Regions from separate parts of the Homo sapiens genome. Here region 1 is linked to region 2. The links come from fine-mapping of genetic effects on gene expression. A gene starts in region 2. The other region holds a variant in brackets. All regions are shown on one strand. Distances are from middle to middle.

Region 1 (12,556 bases), 250 kb before region 2:
GAAAGTCAGGCTTAGAGAGACCAGGCATCTTCCCAAAGTCACCAGGCGAGGGTGTGATGGGACCAGCGTTCAAATCCCAGCAGTGGAGTCCAGAGCCCAGGCCTGCAGGCTGACTCCTCTCCACCCTGCCAGAGCCCCTGGGTGGCCTGTCCTTTCCTTCAAGCTCTAGCCCTGGTGGTCCCAGGCCACTAGACCTACCCAGAGGGGAAAGCAAAGGAGGGCTGTAGTCCTGACTCAGGCGCCCCCAACCTCCCTCCCCAGGCAAACAAAGCCCAGGGTCTCTCTCCTAACTGGGGACTTTCCCAAAGTGCCAGGCCCATTTCCTGGAGGTGGGATAAGGAACAAACAAACCAGAGGCCCAGAAACTGAAACAGAGAGAGGGACAGAATCATCAGGCTGCAGAGTGGAAAGGTGGCCAGAAAAAGAGAGAGAAGCTGCAGAGGCTTGGGCAGAAAATATGAACACAGAGAGAAAGGGGAGACGCAGTCGGAGGGAGGGAGGATGACAGAGAAATTCAGAGTGGTGAGGGTTGGGGAGAGAAGAAATGAGAGCGAGAAGAAATGAGGAAGAGAGAGAGAGTAGGGATGAGAGAGATTCAGACGGAGAGAGAGAGACTGAGGCAGAGAACGAGAAGCGGGAAGGGCCGAGGCCTGGAGAGCTGGAGGTGGAGGGAGGGTGGATGTGGAGACCCCGTGCAGGGCAGCGGAGGGGGCGGGCCTGCTGGCGGCAGCAGAGGCTGTTTCCGCTGCACCCCTTATCAGCCTGCTGCCAGATGTTCAGATCCGATGCCAATGTCAGAGAAGTCCATAGTGCTGGGTCAAGGCCGTGGCCAGCGGGAGCCTCAGCTGCAGTGTGGGGAGGGGGGCTAGGGGCCTGCAATAGACCTGCTCGCTCTTCCCCCTCTGCCTGGTGGCTCTCTGGGCTGGACCACCTCGTGGGGATGGGAAAGGCCAGGTGCCCCTGGGGCCAGTTCTCTAGACTGAGAGCAGGGACTTGTGGAGGCAGATTGGGGCTCCTGGCAACACGTGGACACATACATCTTTGCACATTCGAGAAAGCACATGGACACACACTCAGGCACATGAGTGCACAGTGCCACATGGGGACAGCTCACAGAGTGAAGAGCTGCGCCCCCACAGCTCTCCTCAGCACCCCACAGCCTGCTAGAGCCCCTGCTCTGCGTGTTCAGCTTAGGGCCCCTACCCCCCCGACCTCTCTCCTGACCCAGGACTGCAGCCCGCACTGGAGAAGCAAGATAGGAGCCTCTTTGTGGCTGGTACTATTCCTAGGGCCCACACTGCTCTTCTGTGAACTGGATGCACCCAGAACCTGCTGCCCCAAGGGCTGGGCAGAGGACCTGGGACCCTTAGAACATGAGGCCTGGGGGAGCCCCCGTAGGAGGTGCAGAAGGTGGCATCTGGCAGAGCTGGGCTCCAGCCTTGGGTCTGGCCTCTCCACCAGGCTCCTGGAGCGTGCAGTGCAGCTGGGGCCCCCAGCCTGGGGTAGCTTATCTCTCGGTGCACACGCTTGGCCCTCAAGGGGTGACCCAGCCTTGCTCCCCACATTCCACTTCAGCCACGCAGCCGGTGGGCGCCCCCACAGCCCCGAGACAGGGCCTGTGCTTGGAGGGTGGTCAGAAGCCATCATGCTGCACCACCCCCTGCTCTCGGCTCCAGCCCTGCACAGCCATCTCTGGTGTCTCTTCGCTTGTCTCTGCTTTCATCTCTGTCACGATGAATCTGTCACTGTCGGTATCTTAATCATGTTCTAATTTGTTTCTCTCTGCTATTTTCAGCCGCCTAGTCTGTTTTTCTTTTCTCTCTCTGGGGTCCTTGAATGGGGCCACATCTAAGGATACTGACACTTTTCTTTCTAGCTCACAGTGGCCAGCTGAGTGGGAATGTCTATGAGAACTCGGGCTTGGGTGAGGGACAAAGGGCTTCAGAAAGCAGAGACCTTGGAACTGTAGTGGGTGAGCTGGGGCAGCCCAGGGAGCCCAAATTCAGGCCCCCTCCCACCCACTGCTAGGAGTCAGCCTGGATGATGGACACTGATAGGGCCTGGTGCTGGAGGGCTCCCCCATGTAGTGGAGAAGCCTGGGGGTGGCAGCAATGGGGAGGAAGCTGGGGCTGGAGGTCTCCCAGCCTGAGAGCCTCCTTCCTGTTTGTAGGGAAGTCACTGCCTCACAAACCTGCTAGCGGGAGAAAAGGGAGGCCATGGGGACTTCCGGGAAGCTGGCCAAGGGCCCCAGGCTACCCTCCCTGTGCCCACAAGGGGCCCTCTGGCCCTGGCTTAAAATAGTACAGTTCCTCCTGTAATGGTGCTGGGCCCAGCCCAGACCTCAGAGGGCTGCTGGCTGGCTGCTCGTGCTGCTGGCAGAGGCCCGGGTACCCAGCCCTCCTCAGATTGTGGCTGGAGGCTTTGTCTTGGTAACATGGGTGGGAATGGGGAGTTGCAGAAAAAGCATGGGTTCCTGAGTCAGAAGCCCTGGATTCAGGTCTCAGCTCCAACACCGACTAGCCGTGAGACTTTGGGCTGGTCCATGTTGCCTCCCTGAGCCTCAGTTTCCACTTACGGAAAACAGGGTGAGCACGTGGCTTTTAACCTGAACGAGACCACGTATGTAGCTGATGCCTATGGACCTTGCCACACATAAAGTGGACACTCAAAAAATGGGAGTTCCTTTTGCCTCCAACTCACCTGAGGAAGTGCCTCCTGGAAGCACTCCTCAGTACCTACACTGCTCCTAGGACTGGGTGTTGAACAAGGGTTTGTGGAGAGGCAGCATGCAGGGAGGGCAAGGATGGGGCTGTGGTCTCCATGGTGAGACTTGTTGCCAAGGGAACAAGACTCCAAGAGCCCCGGGTCTGGCAGTTGGGCACTTTTGCCATAGGATCTGAGAGACTGATTACCACTGTGGACCTAAAACCCTGATGGGCAGCCAGGCCAAGGCTCCTGGCTCTGCTAAGTTTCTGCTCTTGGGGTGTAGGGGCGACAGCTCCCCGTACCTAGCCTCCTTTCATGTATTGACTTCACTGAGACCCAACTTTAAGCCAGCCACACTCAATCTTCCTTAACACTGCCCCCTGTCCCCCAGGACACAGGTACCAGCACCTCCATTTGTCTGACAGGGAAAGTGAGGATCAGAGAAGCATCTGTCTGGGTCAAGGTCACATACAACCAGGAAGGGCAAGAGCTGGAATGAGAACTCAGGTGGTGAGATCTCTGGTTGACGTGCCTGCTGTCTCATAGACTGCTTGAAGGAAACGACCCCTGGAAAGAGCTCTGTGTAGTCAGACTCAACCTCATCCCAGCACTTTCCCCTGCCATCATTTCCAGGGGCTTCTGTCTTCAGACTCTGACTTAATTCGGAGTAGCCAGCCTTCCCTGTTTCTTCAGGTATGCAGATGGTCTTACGTACCTCTGAGGGTTTGCACAAGGATAAGAATCACAGCACAGATCCTGCCGAATAGTAGGTGCTCAATCGATGCTGGTTTATATTCATTCCTGACATCTTGCCAGTTATGTAACCTCAAGCAAATGACTTACCCTTTCTGGGCCTCTGTTTTCTTATCTGTAATATGGGATCATTATAGCATTAACCTCACCGGGTTGCTCTGGGGAATCAGTAGTACTCTAATGCACACAAAATACTCAGCACAGAGCTTTGCTTTGTTTTCTAGATGTTACTTTATTATTCCTCCATATTATTGGCTGGCACCCAGGAAACTGAAAGCTCAGTGTCACATAAGCAGCAATTTATGTATTTAGAGCAGTGTCCTTTTATTCCATGGAATATTATCCCAACAGAATTTTAACAGGAGGCAAAAATGTCCAATGCTCAAATGCTTTTGGTAGAACCTGGGTTAAACAACATTAGTTTTCTTCAGGTGGGACTTCTCGAGACTTTAATATGCCAGTAAGGGCTGAGAATCAATGAGGATGATAGAGCGAGTGCAGCACTTCCCATATTTTTGGCAACAGAATTCAGGCTTCTTCCATGGAACCATCTCTGGGGGTGGGGTGGGGTGGGGGGGAGGTTCCTGAGCTCTGGGAAGCCATACCAATGTAGCGCCTGCAGTATTCCACATGACTGGGCAGCACCGCTTTTCAGCTCACTTTGGTTGGGTCTGTTCATCCACCTCTTACAGAATTAATCCTTTATTAATGTTTTTTATTTTTTTGTTTCTATGGCAAAAGGTTCACCCAAAGGCCATTACTGAGCTTTGCTACAAACTCTGGATATCCACATTCAGCACTACTGAATTGCTAAGGCTGAGCAGGGAGGAAGCCAGTTGTAACTTTAGTATCAGATAGACCTGGATTCAAAAGCCAATTCTGCCACTGACTAATGTGTCATCTGAAGCAAAAGGCTTAACTTCCTTGAGCCTCAATTTGCTTATTAGAAAAATGGGGCTGAGACCTACCCCTTGCAAGGCTGTTATGAAGATTACTGAGACGACATGCGTGAAGCACCAATTACGGCGCCTGGACTCACGAGGCGGTGGGCCAATGCGTCCCTTCTCCTCCCGGCACCTCTGTGTATCTGTTCCCTCTTGTGGGGGCAAGGAAGACAGTCTATTAATTCGTTCTGCAGCATTTGCTTTGTTCTAAACCCATCTCTTTCAAAACTCAAGGGCTCTCTGGTTTCTTGTGCTGGAGGCTGAGGAATGGGAAGGCAGCTGGGCTTCCCTCATTTCACACAAGAGGATTAATAGACTTTGATCAAACCCTCCTCAGCCTTTATCTTCCCAGCCTGAGAAGCCTTCATCTCTCCCATCTGTCTTCATACACCCCTCAACCCAAACTCTGCCACTTCTCTGATCATATGAGCAGGCCTACAGGACAGTTGGGCAGATCTGAGTTCAAGTACAAACTTAACACTCCTGTGTGATTTGGGCCACATCCCTTGATCTCTTAGAGCCTCCATTTTTTCAGCTCTAGAAAAGCTATTAATAGACCTCACCTATTTTCTGGAAAGACAGTATTACTTTGCTAGAGCACAGTGCATCCTAGGCCATCCATTGGCCTCTCATGCACTATGATGCTGCTCTCTTGCCCAAGACTCAGCAAACAGCTTTCTTTCCCCACACTCTTGAATGTGGCATCCAAGGCTCCCAACTGCTTCTCCAGCCTCAACTCTTGCTAATCCCTCCCACCTGCCATCATTCTTGCCATGACAGTCCCTTGTTTTACCTGAACACTCCCATCTTTCTGATACACAGCCAGGCCTTTGGACATGGATCCCTCTACCTGGCCTACCTGTGGATCCCTTTGCCTCGTGACTTTCTTCAAGGGCCACCTTCAACAACACTCATCTGTGAAGCTCTTCCTGACTATCCTCCATAGAACAAGCCACTCCTTCTCCAGGCCCTTACAACCCCACATACATCCCTAATGACAACCTCATCCCCCCTGCACTGCAAAAGTCTGTATCTGCCTCTCCACTAGGCTCACTTCTCTGGTTGTGCCACTCACCTTGGGAGAGTCTTTTCACCTCACTCAACTGTAGTTTCTTCACTTATAAAACAGAATAATCCTTGAAGTTCAATATGGTGCCTGGCACACAAGTTGGGCACTTCAGTCAGTGCTGGTTCATTGATTCAGGCAGTTCCGAGACACCACCTTCTGCCAGAGCCTCAGCAACAGAATTGAGGTGGGTGTCAGCTATGAGCAAGAGACACAGGTCTGAAGGCACAAGCCGGCGCCTCAGGACACGCCATCATCCCTCCCCAGAACCCCAGACAAGCTTCACAGACAGATGCCATGTGCAGAAGGATTCACATTTATTGGTTCAAATACAGTACCTAACACTTGCTAAACATGCATTTCACACTAATTGGTCACATTTCCACAGGTAGTCAATTCACAGAACAGGGCCCATCCCTTGCCAGCTGGCAGGGTGGGAGGTAGCAGAGGGCCTGGGTAGCCTGCAGAGCCCGCCAGCTATCATTTGGTCATGGAGGGTTGATGGAGTCAGGCTGGCGGGCAGCCCTTGGCCGGCCCTTTGGAGACAAGGGCTCAGGGACATCCCGTTTCCTCGATTCCTACACACAGGACTGTGGGTGGAGGTGGACCTAGGGCAGGTAACCTGGGGGTAGGCTCGTGGATGTGTGTGCCACTAGAGCCCTTAAAGGTGGTGTCTGTGGGAGTGGTGCTCCCTATGCCCTGGAGCACAGGAAGGAAATGGAGGCCTCTTCAGGGGGGTGACTAGTCCCTGGCTGGGTAGGTGGGAAGGAATCCCCAGACACAGCCCAGACATCACAATGCAGCCACCAGCCCCTATGGCAGACCTGGGATGGCAACACAGACAAAAACACCAACACCCCAGGGCAGGCGGGGCTTCTTTCCCGACAGAAACATGTAAACAGAGCAGGAGCTACAGTATTCTTTTCCCACAGGATTCCTCAGAGAGGAATCGACCAGGATGTCGCTTAAGAGGTAGTTTTTTTTTTCTTTTTCATGGAAATTTGAATCAACAACATTATCACCTATTACAAGACATTTTAGAGAAAGAAAACAATGGTCATTAAAGGGCAAAGACGGCAGGGCTAGATCTGGGGGACTAGCCTCCACCCATAACACAACTTTTGTTCTTGGGCTTGGAGCAGGCTCTGACCTTACTCACCGCCTCCCTTTGAGCCTACAGTTGATTCCTGTGCAGGCTGTGGTCCATTTAGGGCTTCAGGCCCAGAAGACGGATGCTAGATGGGAACTGGGCTAGACAGAGGGACCAGGCTTCTATGAGCGGGGAGAGGCAGGGCCACCGTGGCTCGTGTCGTAGGACAGCTAGAAGCCTTCAAGTCTCATGGTGGCCCAGGTCTGGCCAAAGCAGAAGCCCCAGCTTGCTCCAGACTTGGCAGGCTCTCTGGAGTTCCCGCCTTGGAGGAAACAGTTCAGGTATGGCTCCCAAGCCCAGAAAAAATGTTGCTGTGGCAGCCTAGAGAGGAGTTTCTGGGGATCCTGTAATTAAATACACATCCCTGAGCTGTGGCCCCAGAAACCCTTGTCTCCAGGCTAACCAGTTTCCAACACTTGGTGGAATGACTGCCGTTTCTCATCCTGACACACAGATAAAACATCATTTCACAGATACTGGACATAGATGCTTCAAGCCAAGGAGAAAGGGAGGATGATCAGTTGCAAAGGCAGAGGGGAGTGCAAGGGAACTCTCATGGGCTGGGGTAGGGGGAGGCAGGGGAGTAAGAGTAGCGGATTTTTTTGTTAAATTTTGTTTGTTTTTTGGGTTTTTTTTTTTTTTACTTTAAAAAAATCAATTAAAAATTCAAAGCTTAATAAAAGGGCTGGTCTGAAAGACTGGATTCTTAAAATAATTGCAAAAATTTCAAAAGCAACAAGGAAAAAAGATACACACCAGGGGCCCAGAGAGGAGGGCCTGGAACCACAGCTCAGCTTTCTGTCCTGCTGAGAGGCCAGGGTTCCCTTAATTCGACCAACCTTGGACATGGCTTAGATGCTGCCCACAGTGGGTTTGTCTGTCTCCATCAGTCCCATTCCCCCAGGAAATCAAGAACAAACAAACAAATGTAGGAAATGGGTAACAGAGCAATGCACCTAGCTCAGAGCCCAGGATTTTAAGGATCTGGTAACAGTGACCATGGCAGGTACTCACCTCCCTGAAAAAGGGTGGCAGGTGAGAGGCAGGTTGATGTGGAGTGGGTGACATTCAGTGATGCCACAGAAACCCTT[A/G]GGATTCCCCATTCCTTGCTCTGGTTCTGGGAAACAGGACAGGGAGGATCCTGCTTACTTCCTCCTATCCCTGGGGGCTTGCCCACCTCTCTTGTGAGTGGGGCATAGGGGCTGGGTGTCCTCTGAGCCAGGTTGAGCGCTTTGAGACAGATTCTGGGGAATTTCTCCAGATTAACGACGAGACCACCAAACCTTGCAAAGGACTCCAAAAGTCTACAAAGGCAGCCAGAGAGCATGAATAAGTTCCAAGATGCCAAACTTTTGTCTTGGGACAAGAAAACATCAAAAAGGAGAGGGAGGGAAAGGCTTGCATGTTTCAATGTAGTGCAAGGAGGTGGGATTCTCCTTTTCCATGTAGCTTTCAGAGTCGTATTTTTATGGCATAAAAATTCTCACTCGGCTGGGTGCAGTGGCTCACGCCTGTAATCCCAGCACTTTGGGAGGCCGAGGCAGGCGGATCACGAGGTCAGGAGATGGAGACCATCCTGGCTAACGTGGTGAAACAATGTTTCTACTAAAAATACAAAAAAAGTTAGCCGGGTGTGGTGGCGGGCGCCTGTAGTCCCAGCTACTCAGGAGGCTGAGGCAGGAGAATGGCATGAACCCGGGAGGCGGAGCTTGCAGTGAGCCAAGATCGCACCACTGCACTCCAGCCTGAGCGACAGAGCGAGACTCCGCCTCAAAAAAAAAAAAAAAAAAAAAAAAAAAAATCCTCACTCAAAGTGAGTGCTTTTGGTGGTTGGGGATCAGAGAGAGGGCAGAAAGAGAAATTAGAGAAAACATGCACAACTTTTCTCTCCTTCCACTCGCAAAAAGGCTACCTGTTAACCAAACATTATGGGGAAGAAAGCAAAAAACAAACACACCAAACCTCCCCTCCAACCTTTCTCCGTGTCCTTCAAACCAAATTCACAAATACATCTAGTGGCTGACCTAATGTCTCCACGCTGCTAGCTACACTCCTACCTTCTCCTCATAATACCTGAGTTTGCAATGCAACACATTCACTTTACCCTGTTTAAAAAAAGCCCACGTCATAAAAGGACTGGTGCAGAAGACATTAAAGACGGTCCACAGGTCAGGCTCCGGCTCGGAACACACAGCCACTTTGCTCTGAGATTCTGCAGGGCTCTCGGCAATGAATGGGCTCTTTGTTCTGTGGAATCTGCTGCAAACATTTGTAAAACTGGATTTGTACAATGGCAACTTGCAGAACCTTTCCCCTACTCCACAAATTAACAACTTGCTCTGTTCAATACTACGTTGTTGGAGAGACATGTTCTTGCCTCATCAGAGAGCAATTTCTTTTGACACCCAACACAACGGGTAAAATGTTTAATTTGAAAAGCAATTTCAAAAATAATAATTGGACAGATAGAGGCCTCAGCAAAGAACGATGCTGTACACAGGAGCTGTCTTAGAGAAGGCATCTGTGATATGTGTCTCCTTCCCGATCTGGAGGAAAGCAGCTCAGAGTCTGACCTGTGGCCAAAGAATGTGATCTAGTTGGTTAAATAAAATTCAGGGGAACAAGTATCGTGAACTTAGAAATAAACAGATACACACGAACACACAAGAATCTTCCCACTGACGTGAAAAACATGCTAGCTGGAGCTTTTCCTGAGGAACATGTCTCTTCCTTCTCAGAGCAACTGGGGAAACGGCATTGAGGAGTAATGTTCCGAGTTTTAGATCCATCAAGGGCCAAAATCATCACTCTGCTGGTACCCGTAACATTTCACCAGAAAGAAACAATTACAATCAGACATGGACTACCCAGTATGCACACGACGTGGTGCCCTCCTGGGTAGCTTTACTAGGTTGAGTTGAGGAGACAGCAAACAGCCTTTGACTAAATAGGCAGAAGAAGGTGCCGTGGGCCCTTCCAACCTACCCAGGCATGCAGCCAACTAAGTGGTCTGCTTGCCACACTGGCTGTGAAAGATACCTGGGTGTAGGCAGGACAAGCACCTGAAAGAGTTCAAAGACAGACCTGGTGTAGCGCTGGCCAAAGTCAAGAGGGTAAGGAACACGTCCTGGGATAAGGTGGGGCAGGTAGTGAGAGGTCAAGGAGTCCAGGCCATGTCTGCAGAGGTAGCAGCCGGGCCATTAGGAACCTGAGGTAGTTTAAAGCCCCCCTTCCCTTCCAGGTGCTTCTGGCTCCAGCCCTCCAGGCCTTGGCTGGCCAGTCCACTGCTGAAGTAAGGGGCAGCTGAGCCACTCTGGGCCTTGGGCTTTGTGTCCTGGGTCCCTGAGGAAAACTGGTCTCACTCTGGAGAGAAAAGGAGAACTTGGAGAAGAACTTAGGGGCAACATTTCTGGTCAGCAGACAGGTGAATGGTCCTTCTCATTGTTTAAAAAAGCCTGAAGTTTTCGGATTTAGACCTGAGGGTGCGGTAGGAAGGGGAGGGGAGAGGAACAGATTTCAAAAGGGGAGTGTCTATTCTTTTTGCAGTCTGGCCTTGCCCTACTACCCTTTGAAGAAAACAAGGTGAAAGGAGAATAAATCAGTAGTGGGCACCAGGCTTCAGAACATGGCATTCTGCTCAGCTGGTTTTTCAAAGGGCCAATAGGAAGTCAAATGTGTAAGGGAGTGGGAAGGAGGAAGGTGGGCCTCAGGAGATCCAGGTAAGGAAACTAGGTAGCTGGGGGCCCCGAGGGAGCTGGGAGGCGAGTCCTGTGGATCAAGTGATTGCCAGGACTTTGCCTAGATGGAAAGTTCGCAGTGGTAGACAATGATGGTGGTGCAGGGGTAAGGGGGGCAGCAAGGTGTGAGAACAGAAATTCTTCTGCCCTTAGGACTTGTTGGGTGGAAGGACACCTGCCTTAAATATGGTCACTGTGCCCTACTCTCTTAATTTTCACGCTTTCCAAGGAAAGGACGTGGCTCAATCCTCACCTCCTACCCTGTTGCCGTCTCACCAACCTTGCTTAGTGAATCTCCTAACAACACTTTGCCCCCTTACAGTGTGCCGTTTTATCTGGCAATTCTGTGGCTAAAAAAGGCAATTTGCTCTCTGACAGACAAATGTATGAGTCTGCTGAGAAAATGTGGAAAAAGTAGGGATGGCCACACCCCCCATTTCCATTGAGGTAGTCATCTTTGTCAACATTATGGAAATAGTCATCTTAGCCCCATCCCACCCTCTCCCTCAAAATACAAAAGAACTATTTCTAAACAATGACAACACTGTAACATTAAACATCTTCACATTCTGTAAACTGTAAGAAAATGCATTGGCTGCATTCACACAAAAGCATGTGCATCATGTTGAAGGCCATACATTCAACTCTGTCGTGAAATAAATATATAGAAAAATGAGGTTAAAAAAACAGACAAACAAACAAAAACTCTTCTTGCTATGGAGGCAACGGGAAATGCTGCTCCACAGCCTCCATCTTGGTCTCTCTGGCTTTTCCCTCCAGAGCCTGTCCTGCCCACCCAAGACGCTGTGGTTGGCCTGAGGAGGGCGCCTGGAACAGGTCATTCCTTGCCCACACTGGTCTTGCAGGAATGCAGCACCACCTTAAAGAGGAGGGGCAGCTGCTCCAGGGGCACATTCACCATCTTTCCTGGGAACAAGGGGGGAGAAGAAGAGTTAGCAGTGGTCACTCTAGTGGACAGGCAAGTCAGCCTCCTTGGGCTGGTGGAGGCAGAGTATCACCTTGCTGAGTGACTGGGGCAAGAGAAGTGCCAGGAGTATCACAAAGGTTGGACACACTGGGCTAACATCCTAACATCCAGACCCCTTTGGGTGCCCAGGGAGCCTAGTAATGGTGCCAACTCATCATCATTCTACTACTCAGGGAATACTTAACTCTGTTCTAGGTGGTTAAATGCATTACCTCGTTGAATTCTCACACTATTTCTGTGTACTACTTTTTACCCTCATTTTATAGATAAGGAAGCTGAAACTGACAGGTAGTCCAAAAAACTTCTGTCCTGTTTTCTTCACCCCCTCAACCCCCGGTAGATTTTCTAAGTAATATTCTATAAAATATTGCACTTCAGAATGGTTTAATAGGTTAATAAAAGTACTAGGGGAAAAAGAAGCAGGGGTAAAGAGGCAAATACATTTGAGAAACTCAGGGTTAAAAGAGCTTTACAGATTTCTTGATTGAAGGACTTCTCAGAGCATTCAGTGTGCTAATATAATTTATAAATACCTAAGGCTGTGTTTCTTCTGGCAAACAGTACCTCTGAGTGACCTGGGGAGCCGTTCGAAAACACTGATTATCTCCAGGCTCTACCCCATTCCAATTAAACCAGAATTCTCCAGGTGCAACTCAAACATTGATTTTTTTTTTTTTTTTAAGTTTTCCAGGTGATTGGAAGTGCCGCCAAGGCTGAGGACCCAGTTCTATGGAGGAGAGTGGCATGTAATTGTTGACTTCCTTTTATTTCACAGAGTGCCTGCTTAATATCTCATGTGGTAAACTCTAGCTTAGAAAATACTGAGACAAACTGTCAAAATATCCCTAAAATTCCAATAGTTTAGGCCCAGCTCACATTTGCTAGACTGCTTTGTGGCCCAAGAAATAGAAAAAAAAATTCCCTTGTCAGATTGAAATAATTTTCCTTTAAAATCGTATTGCTTTCTCCAGAATTTTTATGTTGAATTAAAAAACTGTATTGCTGAATTTTACAGGAAGAATCCCGGTCTATAGGTCACATTTCTGAGCTGCCCCTCAGTATCTGCTGGACAGCCAGAACAAGAATCTTTACCACATGAAGCAAGGCAACAACCAAAAAAGCCAGGATTTTATATTGAAATAGACCTATTTAAATGTCAGAAAGCTCAGAAGGGGTCAAGACCACATAGAAACATACATACATACACACACA
Region 2 (15,404 bases):
TGCCTGTAATCCCAGCTACTCAGGAGGCTGAGGCAGGAGAATCGCTTGAACCCAGGAAGCTGAGGTTGCAGTGAGCAGAGATCGCACCGCTGCACTCCAGCCTGGGCAACAGAGTGAGACTCCATCACAAAAAAAAAAAAAAGAAAAGAAAAAACTATCTGGTTAAGCTATTCCCTTCACTGATTCAGTCTATGCTTCATTTTGCGGTAGATTTGTTACTAAAATGTTTCCTGAGCTCTAAACTATGGGATTACACCTGAAGGAAACATCATAGATAAAATATCACAGGAAATCTAATCAATCATCTCTTTTTTTCATCAGTGTTTTAGAAGAAAATAGAGAATACAGAAATTTGGGCATTACAATGATGGGTTGGAAGAGCAAGCAGAACCCACTCTTAGACCTCCAAAATGCTCTTATACACAGATCTAAAAATCCATGATTCTATGAAATGTAAGGAGGAACTGGAAATAAAAAGCTGGGAAGATTATCCATCTTTTTCACATGAAGAATTTAGTTGTGCATTTCTCTCTCAAAATATGAATCTTGAGTATATTTTTAATGAGTTATAAATTGTTTACAATGCAAATAGTTGTTCAAGCAAATATCTGTTAGATACATTCTCTGCTAATAATACCACTACAATTCCAATGTGCTATAGCTATTACTCTAACAACTCCCTTAATCACTATTACCAAATTTTTAAAATAATTTCTCACTTGGGCAGTGAGTGCAAAGTCACTATTCTGGGTCAAACCACCCACAGAGTATATCTTCAAATCAAATGCCTGGATTTGTTTCCCTGAATACATTACATGTTGCTGCCCAGGGAATTGGTTTTAGAAACATTACACCTGCCAGCTGACTTATCAGCAGGGCCCATAGAACTGACACCAACTTAAAGGCAAGAATCAGTCCAGAAACAGAAAAATATACTGCTACTGCCATCTGTGGTTTATGCTTGAATAGCTTCTCTGGTGTAAACAAATTGAAGGGTGTAGAGTTTACAATTAGAATCCAAAGGCCTCATCATTTAAAGACACTTTTTTAAAGTTAATTCTTAATGTAACGAATTGTATGGTTTATTTAGTATAAGACGTAAGAATCCGTGATTCTGTATTTGAGATTATATAATGCTGATGGAGAAACCACAAACTACCCTGAATGAAAACTACTCCATTGCATAACTTTATTTGTCCCAAACACACACTCCTTAAAGAAACTCAGAACACTTGAAGCCCTCCTGTGAATTTATAATTAGAATCATTTCTCTTTTGAAATCGTGACTGTCAATATTAAAACAGCCCCCGAAATTTTTAAAGCAAAAAAATTTTAGGAAATCCAGGAATTTTCTATTTAGACGTAAGAATTTGGCCAGTTTGCTTCTGTCAAGATAAAAATTTGGGAGTTCAATTATTCCTATAATTTTTTTAAGAACAAAAATTCCAAAATGCAAATGAAGTTTCAAAGTAGGCTATTTTCACAACGTATTTTCTCTCAGTTTGCTTTCTCAAATGACAACCACTGTAGCTTGGGGATCAAAAGATTTGGTGCAGCTGGGGGTGGGGAAAAAAGCAATTCAGCTCCCCAGCAGCCGGCTGAGGAAATCCTGGTCCGCTCCCAAACTAAATCACTGTTAATTAGAATTACCGGGTTACACTAGTAAAGTCTTATTTAAATAACTGTAACCACTGAAAAAACTCTGGGTTTTTTTGAGAAGCTTTTCTACAAAGGCTGCTGTTTAATAGCAGGTAACAAAGAATGAAGAACGAAATACCGTAGGAAATGTTTTATTCTTTCAAATGATGCTCTCCTCTTTTTCCTGTGGCTATTTCTCCGCCATACTGAAAAACAGGTTAGACATCTCACAGTGGTTTTCTTCTGATTTTCTATTACTTACTAAGGGTGTTACAGTCTAACACCCTTGTCTTTTTCTTAAAGACAAGCCATGTTGGAAAACAATCAATGAACAAAAGACTGGGCTGGATTCTAGAAATACTGTATATCAAAGTTACATCTAGAGACGTTTTTTAAATTTAAGCTCAGCTGAATCTGAAACTTAAGCTCTAAAAAGCTCAATACCCAAGAAAGAATTACCTGCTCAGTACCAAACCACTTTCTTGCTCATTTTTAATAATTCTGGTATTTCTGAACCCTAGTTATCGAAGGCATCCATAAACCCTTAAGAAATTACCTGAGCCAGGAAAAAACTTTAATTAAAAAGTTAAGGTTGATCTTAATGCAGAAGTGTGAAAAACATTTTCCTTCACAACTTAATTGGTTTTGGAAATGCTCTCAAAGTATTACAAAGAGTTGGGTATATCAGATCACTACTTATGTGGGCAGATTAGATAGCTACCTTCTGTTAAAAACTGTTTCAAGCACATTTATTCTTTATTGAAATACAAGCGTGTTTATCTGTTGATTCAGAACTTTGATTTTTCTAATTCTGACCTTTTTCCCACATGACTAGAATCTGTTTTTACACATGAAATAAGGCACTTTTACTGTCCTACTTAAAAAAAACAGACTGACCCAACAATGTAAAATTTACTCTAAAACACATCTTCTCAAGTGTCACTTTCAACTTAATTATTATGCATGGAAAAATACTGAACAGAAAAGTGTCATTAATTTGGCTATAAATCAAAAATAAACTTAAGAAGCAAAGATTATGACCAGCCCCAAAGATCTCGATGAATTTGCTGACAATGAAGTCTCCTAATGTGGGAGAATCTATCCTGGCTTTATGCAATTCTTAAGCTAGAAGTTGCCATCTGAACACAATTCATTAACAAACCAATTTTTCAACATAACCAATAAATAATATCTACCCAATTATAAAAATGAAGTGGTAAATCTTCCCACTAACACAAATGAAACACAGCTCCAAGCTCCAAAACATGCAAGCATCATTAGCAATTTAAAGCCAACTTGCACAACAAACACTAGGGGTGGTATAAGAAACTTCCTCTACCAATGTTACAGCAACAGTTGGCATTTCTACCTACCATCCTCTACTATTCTAAAATGTGGTATTTTAATCTAAACTCTATTTTCCACCTTTGCCCCAAAACCCTAGGAAAAAAGTAGGGAATGAGAAACCAGAAAATTCTAAATAAAATATGGAAATGCATGATTTGGACATATTTTTGGAAATTTACCAGCAGTTATTTTTTTCATTAGCTCCCCATCCAACTCCCTTTCATGTACTAACACATGTGCCTTGCATACACCTTTTTGCTACGGAAGTCAGAATGAATTATAGATTAGGAATCATGTCATCATATTTTGGTTACATGAATCAGAACTGCTGAATGATTTGGTGGCTTGTACACTGGAGACTGTAAATGTGGTCATCTCCCACCTCAGCTATGCAAAATCACCAGTGAATTTGCTCACTGTCGCCTTTCTTCTACCCTAGCCGTCTTTGGAGGTCACAGAAGCTACAAAAAAAGAAAAAAAAAAAAAAAAGAAAAACCTGCGTGCTGTATGTACTAAGAAACAACAGTACTACAGCATGTTTTTGGTTTTGTTTTTTTCTAATGGGAGTAGGAAAAAATTCTGGGGCAACTCAGAATTAACTTAATTTTTTAAATCACAGAACTGAAAAGTTAAATCATCATGGGAAATATTTGCCAATTTATTTTCCAGCATAAACATTTGGACGGCATGGTTATAGCAGAAGAAAAAGGCACCGTGCTATTCAGTGAACTTCTCCCCATTTCCTCTAAAGTGTAATTACATAAAATATGCTTTTAATTACTTATAATGGCTTATAACCTTCCTTTGCCTTCCTTTGCTTTAAATATTTAAAAGTATATTCCCTCATTCTCTTAAAATGAACAAATGCAATATTCAGCATACACTTCCTCAAATCATTCATCTTCCTTTGAAATCCCAAAAGGGAGCAGTCCTCTATTACAACTAAATGAGTTCATGTTTGTTATGAAAACCTACAAGCAACAACTGAAAATAGCGCAGTCAGCACAGGGAATTCCTGGAAGGATGATGGTGCATCAAAAGGCTAGAAAGAAACTCTGTTCTGACAGAATAAAAACCATTCAAAGGACTGTAAATTCAGCATCAATGGTGTTTCCGGTAGGAAAACATTTCTAAAATGCCACCTCCAGTTTATTTCTTCATGACAGAGACCAAAAGACCCCCTATCTGTATAGTTGTCTCTTGAAAATAGTTCATATAAAATAGAAATCAGTCACTAGGAGTAAAAAACAGATAATTCATTTCTTTTCTACTCAGAACAAGCAGTTTCATATATTTTTGGAGAAAAATATTAATTAGGAAGCAAAAAAGAAAAAATGTGCCCATTGTTCCATAGGCAAACTTAAAAAAATTTTTGGCAATTCTTCTGTGAGCATGTTAACTTCATAAGTGCTAATGAACATAAATTGTAAAACATTGCACAATGCTAGTTTTTACACTGAAAAATATCCCACAACGGTCTAGCGTCTAGTGTATTTTAAGCCCATCAAGCTGCCAAAAGTTCCCATTGTATTTTCAGCAAAAAGAAAACATCTGTACCACTAACTTAGACTAATGTAAAGCTTTAAAGCCACCTTAGTCTAAATGGATTGCTCGATAACATTCTTTCAAATGGTTCTGACCAATTGAGGAAATGAGACTATGAATGGGAAATCTGATTAAGAGTTAAAATTACCATTGAGTTCTTTAAAATGTACTAATGAATAATTAATAACAAATGCAGTTCTTAGGTTTCTCTTACAACACTATTATTCTCAAGTAGAATTGAAAGCAATATTGCAGTAAATATTGAATTGCAGTAAAATCCGTCATCTACATTATATGCACAGGTGGGTACAGGAAGTATTCACACATAGGAAGGCATCACAGAAATATACACGCTAATATGGGATATAAGATAGGTTGGGGTTTGGATTCAAAAAAATCAGCATGGGAAAATTTAGATCAGGATTTACAACACTCACAAATTAATACCAAACCAAATCTCCACACAAACTAGCTTAAAAAGTCAAAGGCATTAAAGAAATCCTTTGTTCCTATTATACTGTCTCCTTCTACCCTAACTGGATTCCAGCTTCCCCCTTTGTGACACGGAATTTTATTGATCTCAAACATGTTCACATTCAGAAATTAGTTGCCAACGACAGCCCACGGAACGGCCAGCCACCTAGCCATCATACATCATACACAAATTAAAAAAAAAAAAAAAAGAGCTCTGAAAACACATCATTATTTTTAAGATCAGCAACATCAAGTGAAGTTAACCAAGCTCTCTTCTACACGGACTTTTCCCTTTTGTAAAAAACACCAGATCTCCTGAACTAACAAAATGTTTGACTAGTTAATAAACGTATGAAGGCACGGATCCAACCCAAGATTTCCACCGTCTGTAGCTACTCACTCATTCAACAATTGAGCGCCTAACTGACCTATTTTCAGGTTACTTTCCTCACACCTGCCAGGTCACTGTCCTGATTGAGAAACCTCTTGGTGAAGCAGTTAATTTTTAGTGCCTCCTAACTGTCCCGGGTGTTTGCATTCAATTTGAAATCTGTTACTTGTTAGACACTGTTCGGTCCTAGATCTCTCAGAGAACTGCGAGTTTATGGCGCAGCGAGGGGAGGAGGCACTGATCTCTGAGAGCCTCCCTTTATTCGGAAATGAGGAGATGTGAAAGGTGGAAAACAGGGCAAATAAATAAATCGGGTTTGCCGCCGGAGCGTTTGCCGGCCGGTGCGAGCACCCTTTGTAATGCAGGCCTCCCGGGGCGATCGCCTGCGCTAATTGCTCCAGGGCGCTTTCCAAGTTCAAAAGTTCACCTTTTACGACCTCACAAAAGCTCCTAACACGTTACCAATAAAAACATTCCGCGGCAAACACCGAGGAGGAAAATATCAAACAGATACAAATAAAACACCCCGCAGGGGGAGGGAGCGAAGGGGAGGAGGGCGAGGAAGCCCCGAGGAACCTGAGGACCCGGCCCGGGCGAGGGGGCGAGGGACGAGCGGTAGGAAGGGCCGGGCCAGGTGAGGGATTCTCAGCTCCCAAGGTCCCGGATCGGGACAAGAAAGAGGAGAACTGAGACTAAGAGGTGGGGACCGGGACCTGCCGGGCAGAAGCCGGGAGGAGGCAGGTGTCCGGGGCCCCGGGGCGGGCTGGAGCCCTCGGCCAGGGAAAGCCGTTGCCTGGCGGAGAGGGGAGCTGAGCAGGGGCGGAGACCGGCCAGAGCGCGCGGGGCGTTGAGGAAGGTGAGGCGCAGGGGAAGCAGGAGGCGCGAAGGGGTCCGAAAAAGGAAACGACTGGGGGATGTCTAGCGAACGGGGGTTCGGCAGAGGTGGGGGGCTCGTAGTATTCAAGGAAGAACGCTCGAGGCTGCAGAAGAGGAAAACGCTCTAGAAAGCTGAGCGGTACAAGGGTGCTGTGGAGTCGGGTCAACAGGGCAAGAAGGGAGCGTCCTCGGTGGGAGGAGGAACCCCTGTAGGGGAAAAGAGAGGCTCTGCGTTAAGGGAACCCGAGTGAGGGGATGCCCCCACTGACGGACCGCGGTGGGGACTTCCAACCTGAGGAGCCCGGGGGGAGGGGAAGGTTCGGTGCTGGGAAGACAGGGGGAGGGGACCCGGGGGGAGGAGGGAGGATTGGTGCTGAGGGGACGGGGGGAGGGGAAGCCTGTGCAGAGGGGACGGGGGGAGGGGGAAATGAAGCTCGGTGCCCAGGGACCCGGGCAGGGGGAGGGTCCGCGCAGAAGGGAACAGGGACGAAGGAGGAGGATCCACCCTGAGCGAGACCGGGGAGGAGAGGGAGGGTCCGCGCCAACGGGGAACGGGGTGAAGGGCCACCCTAAGGGGCCGCGGGGCCGCTGCGGCTTCCCAGGGCGAGGGTCGGCAGAGAGGAGGGGGATCCCTGGCGGAGGCTCAGGAAGCCGGTTCCTGCCTGGCCCGGGCGTCGCAGGCCCCTCACCCACCGTTGCGCGGCGGCGGAGGGAGCGCGGCGGGAGGCTCCAGGAACCCCGCCGAGCCCCCGCCGCCTCCCCCTCCGCTAGGCGGCGGTTCGTCCCGCTCCATGCGGTGGTGCCTAGGGTCCGCGCCGGGTTTGTTGCTCCGCCATGACCGGCGCCCTAGTCGCCGTGGTCGTCGTCCGCCGAGGGGAGGAGGTTGTCAGGAGCCCGCGAGCTCCCGGCCGCGGCTCTCTCTGGGCCCCGAGCCGCCCGGCTCCGCGCCGCTCCGCGCCCCTCCGCGCCGCGCCCCCTCAGCACTGGCCAGCTCCCTCCCCTGACGTCACACGCCGCTGCCGCGCAAGGCCCTGCGGGGCACGCTGGAAGTTGGAGTCCGCTCAGCGAGGCCGGCCACGCCGACCGCACCAACTGAAGGGGTGGAAGGAGGGATAAGAAGTCCTGAGAAGGGAAAGCTAAAGTCTGTCAATATCAAGAACCATGACAAAGCGTTTGATGTCTATGTAGTAAGCGGATACTTCCGGGCCTTGTCTTGATTGTGATTTCTACCTGATCAAAGTTCCCTAAGAGTCCTCGTAACCCCCCACCCCAACAATGAGTCTTTGCGAGGAGGTGGATCGCGAGGCAGCCGGGTGAGCACGTGCAACGAAGCCCAGCCCTGTGGGCGGGGCCCTGGAGGCGGGGCTTGAAGGTACTCACGTGGGCCTCTCCCTGCCGCTGCGGGACAAATTGGACCGGAGATTAAAGGACCGGAGTTTAACTCGAGGTGACTGCGTTCGTATGCAAATGGAATATATAAAACTCTTCTTTCCGGGGTAGTCTTTAAAGACTTTTTACCTCCGGGTGGGCGGCAAAGACTAAAGTTTCCCCTCCTCCCCTTTCATTTTCCCCCTGCCCATAGAACAGATGGGCAAACTAAGCTCCGGGCCATTGGGGCTATTAAAGAAAGCCCTAGGCTCTTGACCCCAGGTGTCTTGAAACCTTCCGTTTAAGAGGGATCCCTTGCCCAGCCTTGTTTGCCTTCCCCTTTCCTCAGTTTCCCTATCTGTAAAAGGGGGTTGGAATAAGGACAGGATCAAGTTGGAAGATCGCAAACCCCTGCCCCTCCCACCTCAGTTTCCCGAAGCTTTCCGGAAGCAAAATCCCGAATTTTGCAGCGGCTCCCGGCCGAATCCACCCGCTGCGGCCACCAGGTGGCGCGCGGCCACCGGTCACTAGGCCCGCCGGGGTGTCCGTCTTCGGCGACCCCATCGGGAAAGGATTTCGCTGCTGCCGCCAAGGGTCTAAGGCCTACCTGGCCCACTTGAAGACAAAGAACGAGAACGTTGGTGCTTTGCCCACTTCTGCTCTGCCGGATTATGCTGCAGCTTCCTCGGTGGCCGCTCATTCGCCCTCTCCTGCCCCACCCGCCCCACCAATCCCTTAGCCCTTTTATTTTTTTTTTGCCTAATTTTAAGTCCTCGTCCTGGCATTCGCATCCCTGCTTGGCCTGACCCTTGCCCACATTTCGCACCATACCCCGTCCCTCACCTGCTACGAAAGTTGCAACGCTTCTCTGCACTTGGGGGCAACTGGACCTTACCAACCCTGGTGAAACTGTATTTCATACGTAATCTGGGAGACTTACATTAACGCTCTGCCGTCTAAACCTCATACCTGCTCTATGAGATAGCAACAATATTGTCCCTTTCCAGCACTGATGAAGTCCACCAGAAGTGATGGGGATTCCAGCTCCATTCTGTCACACACCAGAACCTTAATCCTTGGCTCCTTCAAGCTGGAACGCGGCTGACTTCACCTGACCCACTCCCAAACTCCTATTCATCTTTCAAGATCCTGTTCAAATGTTTCTTCAGTGGCATCTTCCTTAATACCTTCCACCGAGGGACAACTAGATCCCCTCTGCTAGGTAGCAGTGTTTCAGGAGCTAAACCCTGTGACTAAGAGAGGACGGCCTGCCATTCCCTCAGCTGTGGGTTCTAAAATACTTTAGGACCTTGCTGGGCGCCGTGGTTCATGCCTGTAATCCCCACACTTTGGGAGACTGAGGCGGGCGGATCACCTGAAGTCAGGAGTTCGAGACCAGCCTGACCAATATGGAGAAAACCCGTCTCTACTAAAAATACAAAATTAGCCAGGCGTGGTGGCGCATGCCAGTAATCCCAGCTACTCAGGAGGCTGGGGCAGGAGAATCGTTTGAACCCAGGAGGCGGAGACTGCGGTAAGCCGAGATGGCGCAATTGCACTCCAGCCTGGGCAACAAGAGCAAAACTCCGTCTCAAAAAAAAAAAGAAAGAAAAAAAAAGTCAGGACCATCTGGCCTTTCTCAGGAATCTACCTTTTTGTCACAGGTTCTGGTGGTAGTGAGTTCTCTGTCCCTGGAGATGCCATCAGAGCCTAAGTGGCACTGCAGAAACGTGCAGCCCTGGAGTTTTGGTAGTTGATGAAGATTCTAAGTCAACCCTCTTTAGATGGGCAGAAGAGTTCAGCCAAATGCTCAGCCCCTGGAAACAACTCCTCCAGTCCTTCAGACTACAGCTCTGTTGTCCCTTCCTTCCATAAACCTTCCCACACCTCCCTGACTAGTCACATCCCTTTATTCTCACTCATAACCCCAACTGCTGAGTACAGATCTGGCACATAGTAGGCTCTCAATAATTGCTGACTGGGTGAAAGAATGGATAAAAACAGCTAACCTTAGGTGAGTGACTTCTGAGCCTCTATTTCCTGTCTTCTAAGGGGATGGGTAATAATGATAGTTGCTACCTAGCAGGAATGCTATGAGAATTAAACGATGCTTGCAAAGCAATTAAAGGTCTGGCCTAATAAATGGAACCTCTTACTAATGTTATTTAAAGAGTGGTTCTAAATCTCAGATGCATGTCTTCTGAAAGTGCTTCTGGGAGGAGTCAAATACCACAAGACTGAGAAAAACAAGGGAAATGACTGTGCTAGAGACCCCAGCCACTGTCCTAAGCATTGACAGCCCAATGAACTAAGCACTCACTATGAGTCCAGCACCTACTATGGGGCCTTTTATCTAATCTCTCTACATTTCTTCCAACAATCCTAAGAAATCAATACTTTCTCCCCCAGTTTAGAAATGTGGGGACAGGTTCAGAAAGATGAAAAAGACTCTGCTACCACCTGCAGGACTCAAAAGATCTGGAAAGGAATGTGTCTAAGGGTAAGGAGGGATCTTAGGGGGCTGTGGTTCTGAGGCCAGAGGCAGCAGACAGACGGGACCAGACTGGGATACAGCTAAGAACAAGGCAGGCATGGCCGGACATGGTGGCTCACACCTGTAATCCTAGCACTTTGGGAGGCCGAGGCGGGTCAGATTGACTGATCTCAATCGGGAGGGATGACTAGAAGTGAGACTAGGTGGAGAGGAAGGCTTTCAGGTGGAAGGAACAGCATGTGCCAAGGTCCCAAGGCCAGCCAGATCACGGCTTGGCCCATTTGAGGAGCTGGGAGAATCTGTGGTGACCAGAGCCCACTGAGAGAGAGAAGGGTAAAGAGGAGGCAGCCAGAGATTATCAGGTCATGTGGGGGAACAGCCAGCAGGGGGCAGAGTTCCTCTAGTGACGGCAGCCTTGCTCTTCCTTGTCCTGCCTAGAGTCAGAGCAAGGCCGCAGTTCATCAAGAAAGGGCTTGGGGAGGGAATCCCCCCTGCCGGCTTCGATTTCTTTTAAGTACGCTCTGTCCCGTTTTTGAATACATAGGACACACACATTACAAAACCCACAGGATGCAATGAAAGTTCTTACTCCCTGGATCTCCTTAGAACCACCGTGCTGACTTTTTGCATTGTTTTTCAGATAGTCTATGTCCATAAGAACATACACGATATTTACTTTTTACACTAATCTAGCCCCGGTTTTGATGCCTCCCAGGGGATCTCTAGTTATAGAAGAAGCTTATTTGTGGATGGGCACAGTGGCTCATGCCTGTAATCCCAGCACTTTGGGAGGCCGAGGTGGGCGGGTCACGAGGTCAGGAGTTTGAGACCAGCTTGGCCAACATAGTGAAACCCTGTCTCTACTAAAAATACAAAAAATTAGCTGGGCGTGGCGGCAGGCACCTGTAATCCCAGCTACTTGGGAGGCTGAGGCAGGAGAATTGCTTGAAGCCGGGAGGCGGACATTGCAGTGAGCCGAGATTGCGCCACTGCACTCCAGCCCGGGCGACAGTGCAAGACTCTGTCTCAAGAAAAAAAAAAAAAAAAAGAAGCAGCAGCAGCTTATTTGTACTCAGTGTGTGCTTTGCACAGGGTTCTTTAATTCAGCTGAGAGTTGTAGAGCACCGTACCTTGTGCCAGGTCAGTGGTTCTCAAACCCTAAGCCCCCTGGAGCCCTGGAGGGTGTGTTAAAACACAGATTGCTGGACTCCATGCCCAGAGTTTCTGATTTTGTGAGTCTGTAGTGGGGCCTAAGAATTTGCATTTCTTTTTCTTTTTTTTTTCTTTGAGAAGGTCTCGCTCTGTCACCCAGGCTGGAGTACAGTGTCACGATCTTGGCTCACTACAGCCTCTGCCTCCTGGGTTCAAGTGATTTTTGTGCCTCAGCCTCCCAAGTAGCTGGGACTACAGGCATGTGCCACCACGCCCAGCTAAGTTTTGTTTTTTGGGTTTGTTTGTTTGTTTTTGAGACAGAGTGTCACTCTTGCCCAGGCTGGAGTGCAGTGGTGCCATCTCGGCTCACTGCAACCTCTGCCTCCCGGGTTCACAAGCGATTCTCCTGCCCCAGCCTCCCGAGTAGCTGGGATTATAGGCATGCACCACCACATCAGCCTAATTTTTGTATTTTTAGTAGAGGCGAGTTTTCACCATGTTGCCCAGGCTGGGAGAGTTTGCATTTTTAACAAGTTATCCGATGATGCGGAGGCTGAGACCAAGGACCACACTTTGAGAACCACTGAGTTCAATGTTCATGGGGAGAAACTAAGAATGTGCCCTAGGAAGTCATGCTCCAACACAAGGAAACAAACACACCAACAAGAAAGACAGTCCCATTGAGCAATAAATTCTATGAAGAAAATGAGACCAAGCATGGTGGCTCACACTTGTAATCCCAACACTTTGAGAGACTAGGGTGGCTGGATTGCTTGAGCCCGGGAGTTTGAGAGCCTGGGCAACACAGAAGACCCCATCCCTAAAATAAATACAGAAATTAGCCAGCATGGTGGCACATGCCTGTAGTCCAAGTTATTCAGAAGGCTGAGGGAGGAGGATAGCTTGAGCTGGAAAGTTGACGATACAGTGAGCTGTATTCGCAACACAGCACTCCAGCCTGGGTGACAAAGGAAGACCCAGTCAAAAAAAAAAAAGGAAATGCTGGGTGCAGTGGCTCATGCCTGTAATCTCAACACTTTCGGAGGCCAAGGTGGGAGGATTGCTTGAGCCCAGAAGTTCAAGACCAGTCTAGGCAACAGAGTGAGACCCCGTCTCTGCAAAAAAAAAAAAAACTTTAAATTAGCCAGGTGTAGTGGTGCACACCTGTAGTTTCAGCTACTCAGGAGGCTGAGGTGGGAGGATCACTTGAGCTGGGAAGGTCAAGGCTGTAGTGAGCTGGGATCGCACCACTGCACTACGGCCTGGGCAACAGAGTGAGAAAAATAAAAATTTAAAAGCCGGAAGCTACTGGAGTTTGGGAGCCGACAGGAGGGATTCCAGAGGGAAGGAGAAATGAAAGACGGAAGACAGGTTGGGGTTGCTGAGCCTTGGGAAGGCTTACAGCAGTCAGGTCCCTGTCCAGAAGTGGGTGAAATCGGAGAGCGCAAGGGCTCACGTGCCCTGGGAACATCCGTCTCTCATGCGAACTTTACAAACACTCCAAAAGGAAAGCACGAGTCCCCCATCTTACAGATGAGGAAACTGAGGCACACAGGTGAAGGGACACGCCCAAGGTCCCACGACTCACAGGACAGGACCTGAGTCCGTGAGAGGAGCCCACGCGCCTCGCCCTGGCCCCGTTGCTCCTGCCGGCTGCGATCGAGACCCACCCTGGCGCGCGGGCAGGGATGCCCTTGGGAGAGCCGCCCGACGACGGGGAGGCCCCGCGAACGGCGGGCGGGGCGGGGCGGGGTGCCCCCTCCGCCCTAGCTCCGCCCCTGGCGGCGCTGGAAGACCCGCGGGGCTGGCAGCAGGGTGCAGGCGCGGGGCGCGGGGCAGGCAGAGCGGGCGAAGGCGCGGAGCTCGCAGTGCAGCCCGCGCTTCCCAGCGTCCGTGCCCGGCCGCCTGTGCCTACCGTGCCCGTGGCGCCATGGCCGCTGCCGCCCTCCCGCCCCGGCCGCTGCTCCTTCTGCCGCTAGTGCTGCTGCTGAGCGGCCGCCCCACGCGCGCCGACAGTAAGGTACGCACGCCCCTCGGACCCGCGCGGCTCGGCGGGTAGCGGGGCGCGAGGGGGCGCTGTGGCTGGGGTGCGGCCCGGGAGGGAGCCCGGGGCCAGGGCGGAGGAGCCGGGAGCTGAGAGACCGAACCTGGGACTTCTCAGCACTGAAGCCGCAGGGGCAGGGGCCCCGAGAGAGGGGCGCGTGGAGGAACAAGCGCTGGAGATGTAGGGATGCTAGGGACCCGGGGCCTGAGGAAGGGGCGCTGGGACCGGGTCCGATTCCCGGAGGGGTCGGGGGATTTCCCCGGAGTGCTGGCCAGACTCGGGGTTCGTAGGGGAAGCTCCTGGCAACTGTTACCCAACGACTCCCAGGCTTGCAGCAAGCCCTGGGCCACGGCTTTCACGGCCCGCTGGGGACTGGGGGTCTTCTCTACCCGATGAACGCAGCCGCGCTGGCCACTCGCCTGGCCTCTGATGTTCTTGCCAGGGACCGGGTGCACCCCCTGGAGGACTAGGTAGCTCCAGAAGTGGTCTGAGCTGTTCTCTGCTGTGGCTAAGAGGATCTGCTCTGGTGTCAAGCCGACCTGGGTTCAGTCGCACATCCGCTTCTCATCCGCCATCGCCCATCTGAGCCTCCGTCTATTCACCTGTAGATACAGGGAGAATCATGGGACCCACTTCCTGCAGTTGATGGTCTCTAGATGCGGTGTGGTCATGCCTGTAAAGTACTTAGCACTAGGCCGGGCGCGGTGGCTCACGCCTGTAATCCCAGCACTTTGGGAGGCCGAGACGGGCGGATCACAAGGTCAGGAGATCGAGACCATCCTGGCTAACACGGTGAAACCCCGTCTCTACTAAAAATACAAAAAAAAGTAGCCAGGCATGGTGGTGGGCGCCTGTAGTCCCAGCTACTCCGGAAGCTGAGGTAGGAGAATGGCGTGAACCCGGGAGGCGGAGCTTGCAGTGAGCCGAGATCGCGCCACTGCACTCCAGCCTGGGCGACAGAGCGAGACTCCGTGTCAAAAAAAAAAAGAAAAAAAAAAAATACTTAGCACCAGAGCACTTGGGGTGTTCTGGAAATGACTCCCTGATGGCCAGGTTCAGTGGCTCACACCTGTAATCCTAGCACTTTGGGAGGCCAAGGCAGGTGGATCGCTTGAGGCCAGGAGTTCAGGACCAGCCTGGCCAATATGGTGAAACCCCATCTCTACTAAAAATACAAAAATTAGCTGGGCGCAGTGGCACAAGACCAGTCTAGGCAACAGAGTGAGACCCCGTCTCTATAAAAAAAAAAAAAATTAAATTAAATTAGCCAGGTGTGGTGGTGCACACCTGTAATCCCAGCTACTCGGGAGGCTGAAGCAGGAGAATCGCTTGAACCCAGCAGGCGGAGGTTGCAGTCAGTGGAGATTGCGCCAGTGCACTCCAACCTGGGGAACAGAGCAAGATTGTGTCTTAAAACAAAACAAAACAAACAAAAAAAAAAACGGACAGACCTTGGGGAGAGTGAGGAGCAGGACCAGAGCCCTGGTCACAGAGCGTGAGGGCAAAAAAGTGACTTCCAATACCTCTCCAGCCTCTTTCCTGGTAGAATGTGAGTGTCCTGCCTGCCCACGGACAGATAAAAGACAGAAGCCACTAGCCACACGGTGAGTATATGAGCAGTGGGCACTGGCCAACTCTCAGCCTGATTCAGCTCAGGGCATGAAAGCACCCACGTACAACGCTGCTCATGTACTCCAGAGACAAGGAGGGAATGAGTATTTTTTCTAATTTACAGGTGGGGAAACTAGGGTGTTTACAGAGGCAGCTGGCTTGTACATTTAAAACCCTAGGTTCTGGCCTTCCTCTGCTATTCTTCTGCTGTGTGACCTTGGGCAAATCACTGCCTGTCTCTGGGCTTCAGTTTCTTCATCTAAGAAACATCTCCCCAACCTTCCTTCCATATGGGGCCCTCTGGGATTCCCTGATCTGGCTCAGGTATGATGACAAGTGAGTAGAAAATCCTAGGTAACCTGATCAGTGCCTTGTCACCACTGGGATCTCTGGCTGGGAGGGATATTTGGTGTTGGGCATCGTCTGTGCAGAGAGCTGTAGAGCTTGTGGGGGAGAGCTCACAT

Evidence for each region. PIP is the estimated chance that this variant, and not a neighbour inherited with it, causes the effect.
Region 1: its variant is the best candidate, but not a certain one, in a credible set for the expression of NR6A1 in whole blood (TOPMed, PIP 0.67).

What each region holds. Positions count from the first base shown.
Region 1 is chr9:124,511,511-124,524,066 of GRCh38, forward strand. NR6A1 (nuclear receptor subfamily 6 group A member 1) reads right to left here. Exons shown (of 10, transcript NM_033334.4): 10 at 5,765-11,283. The coding sequence ends at 11,195. Among named protein-coding and RNA genes, the nearest start is that of NR5A1, 10 kb to the left of the region's middle. RefSeq lists an enhancer at 546-1,098. The variant A/G (reference allele first, on the strand shown) is at 7,711.
Region 2 is chr9:124,764,056-124,779,459 of GRCh38, forward strand. It overlaps NR6A1 (nuclear receptor subfamily 6 group A member 1), which reads right to left and starts at 7,256. Exons shown (of 10, transcript NM_033334.4): 1 at 6,965-7,256. The coding sequence starts at 7,064. LOC124900274 (a long non-coding RNA gene) reads right to left here and starts at 6,425. Exons shown (of 2, transcript XR_007061773.1): 1 at 1-6,425. LOC107987126 (a long non-coding RNA gene) reads left to right here and starts at 7,302. Exons shown (of 2, transcript XR_001746926.3): 1 at 7,302-7,718; 2 at 8,647-9,782. OLFML2A (olfactomedin like 2A) reads left to right here and starts at 13,078. Exons shown (of 8, transcript NM_182487.4): 1 at 13,078-13,305. The coding sequence starts at 13,216. RefSeq lists silencers at 5,956-6,205, 6,746-7,325, 12,982-13,081, 13,152-13,451 and enhancers at 7,038-7,605, 7,396-7,655.